Homo sapiens: one gene and its partner. The protein of the gene in region 2 binds, or shares a complex with, the protein of the main gene of each other region. Each region holds a gene or a part of one and is shown on either strand. Other genes may lie near its edges. The genes, in order: MCFD2 and LMAN1. A codon is read from its position in the direction of its gene.

Region 1 (4,726 bases), on a different chromosome or scaffold from region 2:
CCTTATACATTCTGAAGAATTCTTGAGGCAGGCTGCAAGAAGCCAAGGCCTCATGTGTGGGAGATAGAGGGCATATGCAGGGAAGGGCCCATCATGCTGTGTCCCTGATGTCCCAGGAAACTCTCCCATCAGGAGAATTTTTTATAAGGAAGGGCAGGCAAGGACCACAAAGGCCAGCATGGAATAGTTACTAACAGCAGCCAGCTGTGGAGAAGGAAGGTGTTCCAGCCTTGTCTGTTTGATGGGGTGATTCCACTATCTGAGGATCTGCTTCTCTCCCTCTCCCAGCTGCCAACAACTGGGAGCCCATTCACTAGATCCATCCAGAGGGGTAGTTCTGGATGAAGAAGGGTCAGTGCAAGGTCCGAGGGTCTCAGAGGGTACGGAGGGAGGCAATGATAATTTCCTTTTAAAAGGCAGAAAAAAGTGTGTCTTCTCAAAATGCCAGGGGAGACTTTTTTTGCTTGGGTCTGGTATGTTTTCAATAATGCTATCAAATTAAAAAACAGTCGCCAGACCAGGGGAAAACGCTATGCAGTCTCCTAGAGAATGGTGTCATAATTTAAATTTGACCAGAGAATGAAGATCCAAAAGTGATTTCATTCAGAAGAAAAAATGCCTAAAAGGGGAAAGTAACTTTGAATTCTGAGAATTGACTCCTGCAAAAGGAGCAGGGTATAGCCGAAGATAGTCACAGGAACTATGATAAGAGCAGGCACATGTGAACATTTGTAGTAAACACACCCTGCATGTGGCAGGAGAAGCTGATGTGAACAAAATCAACTGCTCGAGGTTTTGCTTCATCAGTTTTATTGGTCATATATCCAGAATTCATCATATATAAATCTTTCAAAATAATGAGCTATTACAAGAATAGTTTACAAGTCAGCTCTGACTGCACAAATACTTGACACAGGAAACCATTTTTACAAATACATATGTTTTCTTATAATACTGTAATAAAGAAAATAAGTCTGTATACATCCTACGACAAATTTTGTAGTCTCTTTTTCCCATTCAATCATCGTTTCAGGTTTTCTATTACAGAACGTCCATCACATCCAATAAACCAAATTACAATCTGCTGCTTCTTCTCATTTTCAAATACTATAAAGATTCACACTGTTAAAGGGTTTTTTGGGTTCCTTTTCTAATCTTTCCTGATTTGAAAAGAATCCATGTATCTAGGCTAAAAGAGGTAACTTCAACAATATCCCTCTTGACTAGAACTTCTATCTGATTAATCATTGTTTGGTGAATTATCTTTTCACTTCCTACTTAGGCTAGGCCAGGTGGTAGTTTTACCCCTGCTGATAAAGTCCTGACATTCCTAATAGTTCCTAAACTGCAAATAAAAAACCCTAGAAACGAGTGAAATAGAAAAGAAAGCTAAACCACTATTGATTAGAGAACACACTCAAATTCAGGGTCTCTCCCAGGTTGAAGAAGACAGAAAAGCAATAAAGTATAAGGATGTGGCAGTAGTTGTATAAAATACTGAAAATCTGAAAGAGTCATCACTTAAGCCAGTAGTGTATCATTTCCAAAATGTCAGAGGATACAGAATCTTAGACTCTGTGGCTAGGCTGAACTCAGAATCTCAGACTCTGTGGCTAGGCTGACATTCTTATGCTGTGGCTTTGAAATAGCCTAATAAATATCCACTTGCCCAGAGCAAGTAATCATTTAGGCCAGGGGAACTTTACAGAATACTGACCATGTTTGCCTGAAGAGATAGGAACCACCAGGGCAAACATTTGGTATTCACTCCACTTCACTGTTACTGAAAAGCATCCACTTGGCAAAGCCTGTTGTTTTACTTTTCAGGTGATGTGAATTAAAATTAAGAAACTAGCAGTATTCTACTACAGTCAAGTTCCTGAGTACTCAGCTCCAATTATCTAATATTCTTGAAAGGATGCTGATATGGTTTGGTTGTGTCCCCCCACAAATCTCAACTTGAATTGTATCTCCCAGAATTCCCACGTGTTGTGGGACAGACCCAGGGGGAGGTAATTGAATCATGGGGGCCAGTCTTTCCCGTGCTATTCTCGTGACAGTGAATAAGTCTCATGAGATCTGATCAGTTTATCAGGGGTTTCTGCTTTTGCTTCTTCCTCATTTTTTCTTGCCACAATGTAAGAAGTGTCTTTTGCCTCCCACCATGATTCTGAGGCCTCCCCAGCCATGTGGAACTTTAAGTCCAATTAAACCACTTTTTCTTCCCAGTCTCGGGTATGTCTTTATCAGCAGCGTGAAAACGGACTAATACAGTAAATTGGTACCAGTAGATTGGGACCTGCTGAAGAAATACCCAAAATGTGGAAGTGACTTTGGAACTGGGTAACAGGCAGAGGCTGGAACAGTTTGGAGGGCTCAGAAGAAAACAGGAAAATGTGGGAAAGTTTGGAACTTCCTACAGACTTGTTGAATGGCTTTGCCCCAAATGCTGATAGCAATATGGACAACAAAGTCCAGGCTGAGGTGGCCTCAGATGAAGATGAGGAACTTGTTGGGAACTGGAGTAAAGGTGACTCTTGTTATGTTTTAGCAAAGAGACTGGCAGCATTTTGCCCCTTCCATAGGGATTTGTGGAACTTTGAACTTGAGAGAGATGATTTAGGTTAACTAGCGGAAGAAATTTCTAAGCAGCAAAGTGTTCAACAGGTGACTTGGGTGCTTTTAAAGGCATTCCCTTATAAATAAGGGAAGCAAAGCATAAAAGTTTGGAAATTTGCAGCCTGACTATGCAATAGAAAAGAAAAACCCATTTTCTGGGGAGAAATTCAAGCCAGCTGCAGAAATTTGCATAAGTAGCAAGGAGCCTAATGTTAATCCCCAACACCATGGGGAAAATGTCTCCAGGCCATGTCAGGGCAGCCCCTGACATGTGTGTGCAGCCTAGGGACTTGGTGTCTTGTGTCCCAGCCACTCCAGCCATGGCTGAAAGGGGCCAACATACAGCTCGGGCTGTGGCTTCAGAGTGGAAGCCCCAAGCCTTGGCAGCTTCTATGTGCTGTTAAGCCTGCAGGTGCACAGAAGTCAAGAATTGAGATTTGGAAACCTCCGCCTAGTTTTCAGAAGATGTATGGAAATGCCTCAATGCCCAGGCAAACGTTTGCTGCAGGGGAGAGGCCCTCTCAGCGGCAGGGGAGAGAACCTCTGCTAGGGCAGTGCAGAAGGGAAATGTGGTGTGGGAGCCCCCACACAGAGTCCCTACTGGGGCACTGCCTAGTGGAGCTGTGAGAAGAGGGCCACCGTCCTCCAGACCCCAGAATGGTAGATCCACCAACAGCTTGCACCGTGCACCTGGAAAAGCCGCAGGCACTGAACAACAGCCGTGAAAGCAGCCAGGAGGGAGGCTGTACCCTACAAAGCCACAGGGGCAGAGCTGCCCAAGACCATGGGAACCCACTTCTTGCATCAGTATGACCTGGATGTGAGACCTGGAGTCAAAGGAGATTATTCTGGAACTTTAAAATTTGACAGCCCTGCTGGATTTCGGACTTGCATGGGCCCTGTAACCCCTTTATTTTGGCCAATTTCTCCCATTTGGAACAGCCGTCTTTAATCAATACCTGTACCCCTGTTGGTATCTAGGAAGTAACTAGCTTGCTTTTGATTTTACAGGCTCATAGGTGGAAGGGACTTGCCTTGTCTCAGATGAGACTTTGGACTGTGGATTTTTGCGTTAATGCTGAAAAGAGTTAAGACTTTGGGGGACTGTTAGGAAGGCATGATTGGTTTTGAATAGTGAGGACATGAGATTTGGAGGGGCCAGGGGTAGAATGATATGGTTTGGCTATGTCCCCACCCAAATCTCAACTTGAAATTGTATCTACCAGAATTCCCACGTGTTGTGGGAGAGACCCAAGGGGAGGTAATTGAATCATGGGGGCCAGTCTTTCCCATGCTATTCTTGTGATAGTGAATAAGTTTCACAAGATCTGATGGCTTATCAGGGGTTTCCACTTTTGCTTCTTCCTCATTTTCTCTTGCTGCCATGTAAGAAGTGCCTTTCACCTCCCGCCATGATTCTGAGGCCTCCCCAGCCATGTGGAACTGTAAGTCCAAGTAAACCTCTTTTTCTTCCCAGTCTCGGGTACGTCTTTATCAGCAGCATTAATACAGACTAATACAGATGCTTGAAGCAAGCCCTTGTCCAATAAGGTATTTAATAGCACTTAGGGACTATTAGATGTCCCATTTCTCTTCTCTTTCATTTCTCTTATCTCTTCTCACCCCAGTGTAACGAATCGCTACAGGTTTTTACCAAAATGCTGCAGCAGTAGTTGGAAATGAGTTATTTTGCATTACTAAAGTGTTCAATCACATTATCACGGGTCACATTTGTATATAACCAGGAGATGGCCAAATAACATCTACTGCAGTGATTTTGCAAATTCAGCATAGTCAATGTATCCATCATTGTTCTTGTCATCATCTCTCAAAACACCATCTATTATGTTAATCAGTTCATCTTCACTCATTAGTGGTGCCTGTTCACTCCCTTCCTACAAAATACAAATTAGACAATGATGAGTTGCGCATTTTACCGGAAGAAGTGCTTAACTAACGTCCAAAATATCCATGTTCTTTCATGGCACTGTTTATTAAAAAAAAAAAAAAAAAAAAGGAAAAACAAAACAACAAAATATCCACGCTCATATGTGTCCAAAAACTTTCAATGGAGTATGGGGCTACTTCTAGGAATCTAGATATATAG
Region 2 (7,408 bases):
GAGAGGGTCAACTGAACTTCAAAAAGCAATTCTTCAGAAGATTCTCAGAGAAAATAGTGATCCCTAAAACGGTGGTTTACATCTCCAGGCTAGGTTCAAGCCCCAGCTCTACTACTTACTAGCTGTTTGATCTGTAGGCAAGTTACTCCATTTCTTGAACAGCCTCATAGGTATTTAAGTGCCTACACAAGTAGCTTTAAATGTTTCAATAAATGTTAGCTATTTCTCCTATTATTAGACTAGGTAATTACTAAAGGTCTATCAGACTTAAAATTTGAACAATTCTAGCTCTCAGATATTAACTAATTCTGAAACCCATGCTGGGAAATACAACTGTAACTGTAATCTCACTTTACAGGTAGAAAAAAGTTGACAAAAAGGAAAGCTGAGATACTTTAGTAGGATCAGTCACTGTTCACTGTTACTTACAAACATTCAAAGGATGGGGTGTGGGCATCATGGAAAGAGACTGAACACAGAATCAGAAGACCTAGATTTGAGTTCAACTTCACTGACACTTACTACTTATGTATCCTTTTTCAAAAACCTTAACCTTTCTGAACATCAGTTTTTCATCTATAAAACAGATAACACCCGCCTTGTCTACTAAGGATCAAATCAGAGAATGAAAGTGAAAGAACTCTGAGAGCTATAAAGGGTTACAAATTATCATTTTTTGCCCTTATGGCCTTAAGTGTACTAAAGGAACATTAGAGTTAAGAAAGAGAAACACCATAGATTTGGTCTTAATTTGGGGTTGAAGGTAAAGGGCTGTGTTTAAACTAGATCTTAAATTTCTCTACTTTTTTTTTAAAGTAATGAATTGCAGAGCAAAACGAAAAGAAAAAAATGATCAATGTAGTTACAGTGAGGCTTATGCAAAAACTACAGTGACAATGAAAGCAAGGGATGTCTATAGCAGAGATTCCCAGAGCCAGTAGCCAGATAAATCATGGCTAAAATACTAATACTTTGTTTCAAATTCATTCTAGCCACACGGCTTTAATTTACTGGTACATTATCTTGACATTTCTGCAGCAGAATAGATTAGTTGGTTCCGGCTCTGTAAAGGAAGTCAAGGTAGCTGATTTGACTAGTTGATTAACATTCCTAATTGGCTAATGTAGTGTATGTGAGTGTGAGAAAAAGAGAAAAGGGATAGAAGAACAGGCAGGCAGTGGAGAGGTGTAGAAGTGAAAATGTGTGAACAAATCCATCACTACTGAATAATTCATCATCCCACAAATAGAAACAAAAACTCCAAAAACTTGTGTTTGATATCATTTGCATCACCTTTGTGTATCAAGAATAGAGATACCTTGATAACAAATGCCCAGTAATATACCCTTGCTGCATGGGCACATAATAAATGACTGCTGAGTAACGAAATAACTGCACTCTACTTCAACTACTTAATGACTTGGTCATTAAGTCAAATTAAAATCTATACCTTTCAATTACACATTAATTTGAGAGAAATAGCGCTTCCTAAAAGGGTGCTTCCTATTCAGTAATTACTTTCTAGAAATGAAACATTTTGTTTCAAGAACTGGATAATCTAAAGTGATGTATAAAAACCTTATATAAAAGATTACTTATGGGGGAGGTGGGAGGGATAGCATTAGGAGATATACCTAATGTTAAATGACTAGTTAATGGGTGCAGCACACCAACATGGCAAATGTATACATACTAACCAACCTGCACGTTGTGCACATGTACCCTAAACCTTATAGTAAAAAAAAAAAAAAAAAAAAAGATTAATCACACACAAAGATAGAATTCAAACTGCCAGAGCTCCTCATCTCATATAAAGGCATTTGCCACTTGTTCAACGGGTATATCTGATGGTCACTGAACAGAGCTTATGTCATGCCAAGTGCTACGATTGACTCCTTAGTCAGCAGTGACACATCAGCACTAAAAAGTGCAGATATGTTTTCTTTCACGTAAGTAAATGCTCTAGCAAGGCTCTCTTATCTACAAAAGTGCCAAACACAGAGAGTGAATAAAATATGAACCCAAGATTATTTCAATGCTTCCAATTTTTTTAAAGGGCTAAAAATGTAATGCTATTCTTAGTCTCAGGTTCAGAAACAATCAATCCCTAAAAATATATCCCTTCTCCTAAAAAGTTACATAATGTGTTACTACGAGAGAAAAGATCAAAGACCACACCAAGTCACTGAGAGGAAAATGTGTAGTTCCAACAGTATAAGAATGTCTTCTGACATACAAAGACTTAAAAAATTACTCTAATACTACTATATGCCATCTCAGGAGCCGTCAGTGGGCATGGGGTTCAAGCGAAGCATTAACCATTGCTAACACCGGAGCAAAGAAATCGGGGATCGGGGGTGGGGGGTGGAAGCGGGAAAGGAAGTAAGGGGGCTTCTAGAACATGTCTCAGGTTGGGATGGCTGGGGGTAGGGCACATTTCTCCTAGAGACGTGGCGTTGTGAAACATGATACCTAGAAGCAAGTTTGAGTGCTAGGAAGTGTAGGAGGTAACCAAACACCTCTAGATCCAACGGAAAGTACCGACGAGATCAAAGAAGGGAAGACAGCAGGCGGGTGAGAGAGAACAGAATGGGTGAGGGAAAGACTCGGGGACAAGCGGAGGGAACCGTGCGAACCAGGAGGGACCCGGCGGAGGGGCTGCCAGGAGGGTCCCCTCCACAGCGCATATGGTGTGCAGCTGCTGGAACGGGAACCTCAGCACACCAGGGTAGCCGCGGATGAAAGGCGAAGAGGCAGCAGAAGGGGGAGAGGAACCCGGCCCCCAGCCCTCTGCTCCGGCTTACTCCCCGCGTGGGCCCAGAAGGGCACGGTCCCGTCGCTCTGCACCAGGTGCGGCCCCTTGAAGCTGTATTTGTACTCGAAACGGCGATGTGGCAACGCGACCGCGGGGTCTCCTCCCACGCCGTCGCCCCGGACGAAGCGACCGAGTGACAGCAGCAAGGCGCAGAACAGCGGCCGAACTCTGGCCCGGAGACCCCTTTGCCTGGATCCCGCCATCTTGGATTCTGGAACGCGGAGGAGGGCGGGAGAGGGAGGGGCGCGGATGGCTGCGGATGGCCAACAGGGCGCTCGCTGATTGGCAGAGCCCGGGGGACCCCCAAGGGCAAGGGGTGAGCCCCGCCCCCGGCCTCCGCTTTCCGCGCGGCCGCACGGCCAGGAGCAGCTGTGGGCGGGGCCACGCGCAGGGGGCGGGTCTGGGGCGGTGCGGTCCTTCGGCCCCGCCCACCCTCCGGGGGTGGGGAAAGGACTCCAACCTTCGCTTCCCGCGCGGCAGAGTGCGGGAAGCGCCGATGGGTCCTTACCTGCAGGGAGCTTTCTCCGGCTTCTTAGAATACCTGGGAGCAGGAATTGGCTAGCCCTAAGACCTCTGGACCCAGCCTGTACAAAACCTTTTTAGTATATTAGAAGAAAGGTGTTCCTTTTGATGTGACATCAGTTTTTCAGTGGCACAATCCCGAATGCTTATGGTCCCAGCCCACTGAGCTCTACCAAGCTATGTTAGAGCGTTGCAAACTAGAAACCAGCACCCACGGGGTTGTAGGATGCCTTAGGATTTATAAGTTGGTGTCGGAAAGAGGGTTTCTGTGAATTTGTCAGCCAGCCTTTACATCTCAAAATTTAATTCCAAGAGCTTTCCAAATTTTGAAACCATGGCAAGAGTGCATTCAAATGAAACTGACTTTGGTTTGGTTTGGTTTTGGTGAGAGGGATAATGTGCTATGGACCCAGGCGTCTGTAGAACCTGGACATTTGATATAGGATCGGTCTTCCACTCAATGAATACGTTCTATATTTTAAAGGGGACTCCTCTTTCCCTTGCTTAGGAAAAAATATCGTCAAAATATTCATGGTAATCCAAAGTTTTGTTTTTTCAAAAATGTGTCATGATGAGTTTTTCAAGTCCAAGAAACAGCAGTATGATTTATATTGTTTTTACACATGGCTTTTTATTAGCTCTGTTCGTGTGGGCTACATGAACGCCACACTAGCCCTAGGGACTCAATACCCGCATTACTTAAACTTATTTTTCATTAACTTCCCAGTTTTGGAAGTTGAATCCCATCTTCGGATTCATGGGCCATTACTGTTAAATCTCTTTCTAGTGCTCAAATAAAACCTTCAAGTTGAATATGGATTTAAGGCTTTCCGCCTGCTAGTCTCGAGATGTAATTTAAATGAAAGTACCATACTTACTGCTATCTCAGCAGCAGCAGTAACAAACATTTATCCACTGTATGGTGTATGTGCGTCATTGCCCTGGACTCTCCATGGTTTTCAACCCATAGGATTTAATCATTTTATTTTCTTTGGTTCTCTCATTGCTCTGGCAACCAGCTCTATGCCTTGCACAGAGTGAAGATTCCATAAATATTTGTTAAACAAACATTAATGTTATAAAAATGGCAAACACTTACTGAGTGCTTTCTGTGTGTAACTGCACTAAGCCTTCAACATATGTTAACTTATTGAATGCTGACAGCAGCCCTCTAAGGTAGATGCCATTAATATTTCCATTTACAGATGAGGAAACAGAAGCATAGATTAAATAATTTGCCCAATGTCACACAGTAAGTGGCAGAGGTAGGTTTCAATTCCAGCCATTCTATCATTGAAGCCTTCAATCTTAAGAACCGTTTTATGTTAAACATTATGTATATTAAGTATTTTCAATTCATTACGCATGATTTGAACTCATGAGGGACCTGAATTTCAAGCATAATACAAGTAAATATTTGTAATTTTGCTGAACCATAAATGTAAATCTTTATGTTCTGTGAAGCTGTTTCTTAAAAAAAAAACTGTTTTATTGAAGCATATTATATAGAGAAAATTATGCCAGCCTTAAGAATGTAACTCAATGAATTTTTCCCAAAATGAATACCTCCCATGCAACCAGCATCCAGATTTTTTTTTTAAAAAACACACATTTCTAGAGTTAATGGGTGCAGCACACCAACATGGCACATGTATACATATGTAACAAACCTGCACGTTGTGCACATGTACCCTAGAACTTAAAGTATAATAAAAAAAAATTTCTACTGGGTATGTAACTAGGAGTAGAGTTGCTGGGTCATAGTAGATCCTGCCAAATTTTCAGAGTGGTTGTGCTAATTTACACTGCCATCAGCAGTATGTGAGGGCTTCAGCTGTCTGACTTTTTTTGTTAGCTTGTAGAAACTCTTTATTCTGAATACCTGTCTCTGCTTGGATATATACATATAGCGAATATTTGCACCCACTTCGTGGGATGACTTTTCACTCTCTTAATGTTGTCTTTTAGTGAATAGATACTTATAATTTTAATATAGCTCAATTTACTATTTTCCCCCGTAAGGGTTTTTTGTGTGTCATGTCTGGGAATCTTGCTTGTTGTTTTGTCTAAGTTGTTAAACTTTAAATTTTATAGCATTTTTCCTTCAGAACTGAGAGCTTTTCGGTTTGAGTTAGATAAGACCATTTTACAAATAGCGAAATTGAGAAACTGGGCCTGGCAAACTGAAGTTTCAAGGATCAGAATGCTTTTACTCCAGGCCCCAGGAACTCTGGGCCAGTGAATTTTAAAATCTGTGTTTTTGAAGTAATCCATGTAGGGGAAATTCCTTACAATTAAGTGATGTTTTACCTTCAGGGCAATACCGTATTGCAAATTTTGTACAACACAATGAGGAGGGATTTCCTACTACCCTCTAGTGCCTGAGGCAATTTCCAAAAATTAAGCTCAGATTTTTGAATTGGGAGGGGAATAAAAATTATGAGGGTCCCTCAACACACCATTGGGCCCTGCACAGAGCTGGAGAGATGGAGTGGCAGTACCAGGGCTTGGTTTGCTGCCTGATTCCTTATAACTATCTTCTGGCAATATCCATGACTCATTGCCAGCCTCTTCTGTGCTAGCAAAAAGTATCCCAAATGCCAGAAGATTGACAGGCCTGTCCCATTTATAAAACCCATGGATGTCTTCTAGCACATAGCACAGAATGGTGTTTTGCTCTGGAGTGAATAAGAAGCCAAAAAGCAGATTGGGAGATATCTTTTCTTTCTGGTCTTCCTACTCACAGGGAGCCCTGTGGATTAATGGGTTGTTTTTTCATAATTGGTGATCAATTTCAATTTTCTTTGACCCAGATACACTCCCCTCATCAATGGCACACATAATTGTTGGCTGGAGTTGGGGTAAAATCCATGGTCTGTGAGCCACTCCAGTAGTCTTAAAATAGACCTCCGTTTTGCTTAAGCTAGCTGGAAAGAATTTCACTTAGTTACAGCAAAAATAGTGTTAAAACTAAGGTTACCATGCCAATTCATTGTTTGCATTAGTGGATTAACTATTTTTGGAGCCTCCTAATGACTTTGAATAAATTGTATTTGATAAGAGTAATGAAAACGATATTGTCTGCCTGCTCCTTCAGTGCATGATCATTCATTCACATGTGTTTGTTCTTATTCACAACATCAGACAATTAAGTGTTAAAACCGCTATACTAGAGGCAAGGCAGTAGGAATACAACTTGCTTGGGGAATTCAGATTTAACTTTGAACAGTTAGAAAATTATTATATGTGTTTTAATAAGTTGAATGCTTTAGGCTGCAAGGGCAAAAAAAGCCCCAATTCAAAGTGGCTTAAACAATAAAGAAATCTGTTATCTCACTGAACTGTAAATTAGATTAGGACTGGGCCCAGGCAGTTACGACTAGGTTCTCTCTATCTTTGAGAAGTTCTGGTTCTACCTCACATTGACTTTGTCCTCAGGTTAGCTTCTCTCAAGGTTCTAAGATGTCAGATCTTCTTTAGGTTCAATGGGAGAGACAGAAAATCTCTTTCATCCTTGGATAAAATTTCTGCCTTTCATTCTGATTAGGTCAATCTAGGTTACATGTCCATCTTTGGAACATTAACCGTAGCCAGGGGAAGACCAAGCACTGAATCAGTTGCTGGTAAAGAGTACAAGATTACCAGCCTTGATTGAGAACAGTGGTTCTCAAACTCTAATATCATTCAGAATCACTTCTGGAGTTGGTTAAAACACAAATTTCTGAGACCCACATTTCTAGTTTTAGTAGGTTGAGAATAGGGTCTAATAATTTGTATTGCTAACAAGCTCCAGGTGATACTAATGCTGCTTATCTGGGGACCACACTCTGAGAATCACTAGTTAGACAAATCCTGATCTACCCTGGGAACTGGGGATGGAGTTAGCTTCCCCTGAGTCACAAGGGTTATGTGTGTGTGATGGGGAGTGAACGTATGAACTCAACTGGGGATCAGTTCAGAAGGAGGAAGGCAGAAATGAAAGATCCAAATATAACCAACAGTGTGTCCTGCACAGTTAATCAAGAACATGATCGTGCCTTATAGATTATCTATTAGGATTACAAAATGCAG

The links.
Region 1: the proteins of LMAN1 (region 2) and MCFD2 are in contact, whole or in part, in a cryo-EM structure (PDB 8JP5), measured with the Homo sapiens proteins. Residues at the interface, in NP_005561.1 of Homo sapiens: His43 (codon at 2,892), Arg44 (codon at 2,889), Arg45 (codon at 2,886), Phe46 (codon at 2,883), Tyr48 (codon at 2,877), Lys49 (codon at 2,874), Ser51 (codon at 2,868), Phe52 (codon at 2,865), Lys53 (codon at 2,862), Pro55 (codon at 2,856), His56 (codon at 2,853), Gln59 (codon at 2,844), Ser60 (codon at 2,841), Asp61 (codon at 2,838), Val64 (codon at 2,829), Pro65 (codon at 2,826), Phe66 (codon at 2,823), Trp67 (codon at 2,820), Lys96, Phe265, Glu273, Lys279, Glu280, Ile281, Glu285, Lys286, Tyr289, Glu292, Phe293, Phe296; in NP_001164977.1 of Homo sapiens: Val59, Ile60, Asn61, Lys62, Gln70, Glu71, Leu74, His75, Phe77, Lys78, Tyr82, Asp83, Asn86, Asp89, Gly90, Leu91, Glu92, Thr95, Thr98, His99, Val100, Leu111, Glu114, Leu117, Ile118, Ile121, Asp122, Leu125, Asp129, Lys130.

Annotation. Positions count from the first base shown.
Region 1 is NC_000002.12:46,901,081-46,905,806, forward strand, and holds the end of MCFD2 (multiple coagulation factor deficiency protein 2 isoform A precursor), read right to left. Parts: intron 4,515-4,726; coding exon 4,383-4,514; 3' UTR 794-4,382; downstream 1-793. UniProt on the Homo sapiens protein: The MCFD2-LMAN1 complex forms a specific cargo receptor for the ER-to-Golgi transport of selected proteins. Plays a role in the secretion of coagulation factors.
Region 2 is NC_000018.10:59,356,227-59,363,634, forward strand, and holds the start of LMAN1 (protein ERGIC-53 precursor), read right to left. Parts: upstream 3,040-7,408; 5' UTR 3,019-3,039; coding exon 2,805-3,018; intron 1-2,804. UniProt on the Homo sapiens protein: Mannose-specific lectin. May recognize sugar residues of glycoproteins, glycolipids, or glycosylphosphatidyl inositol anchors and may be involved in the sorting or recycling of proteins, lipids, or both.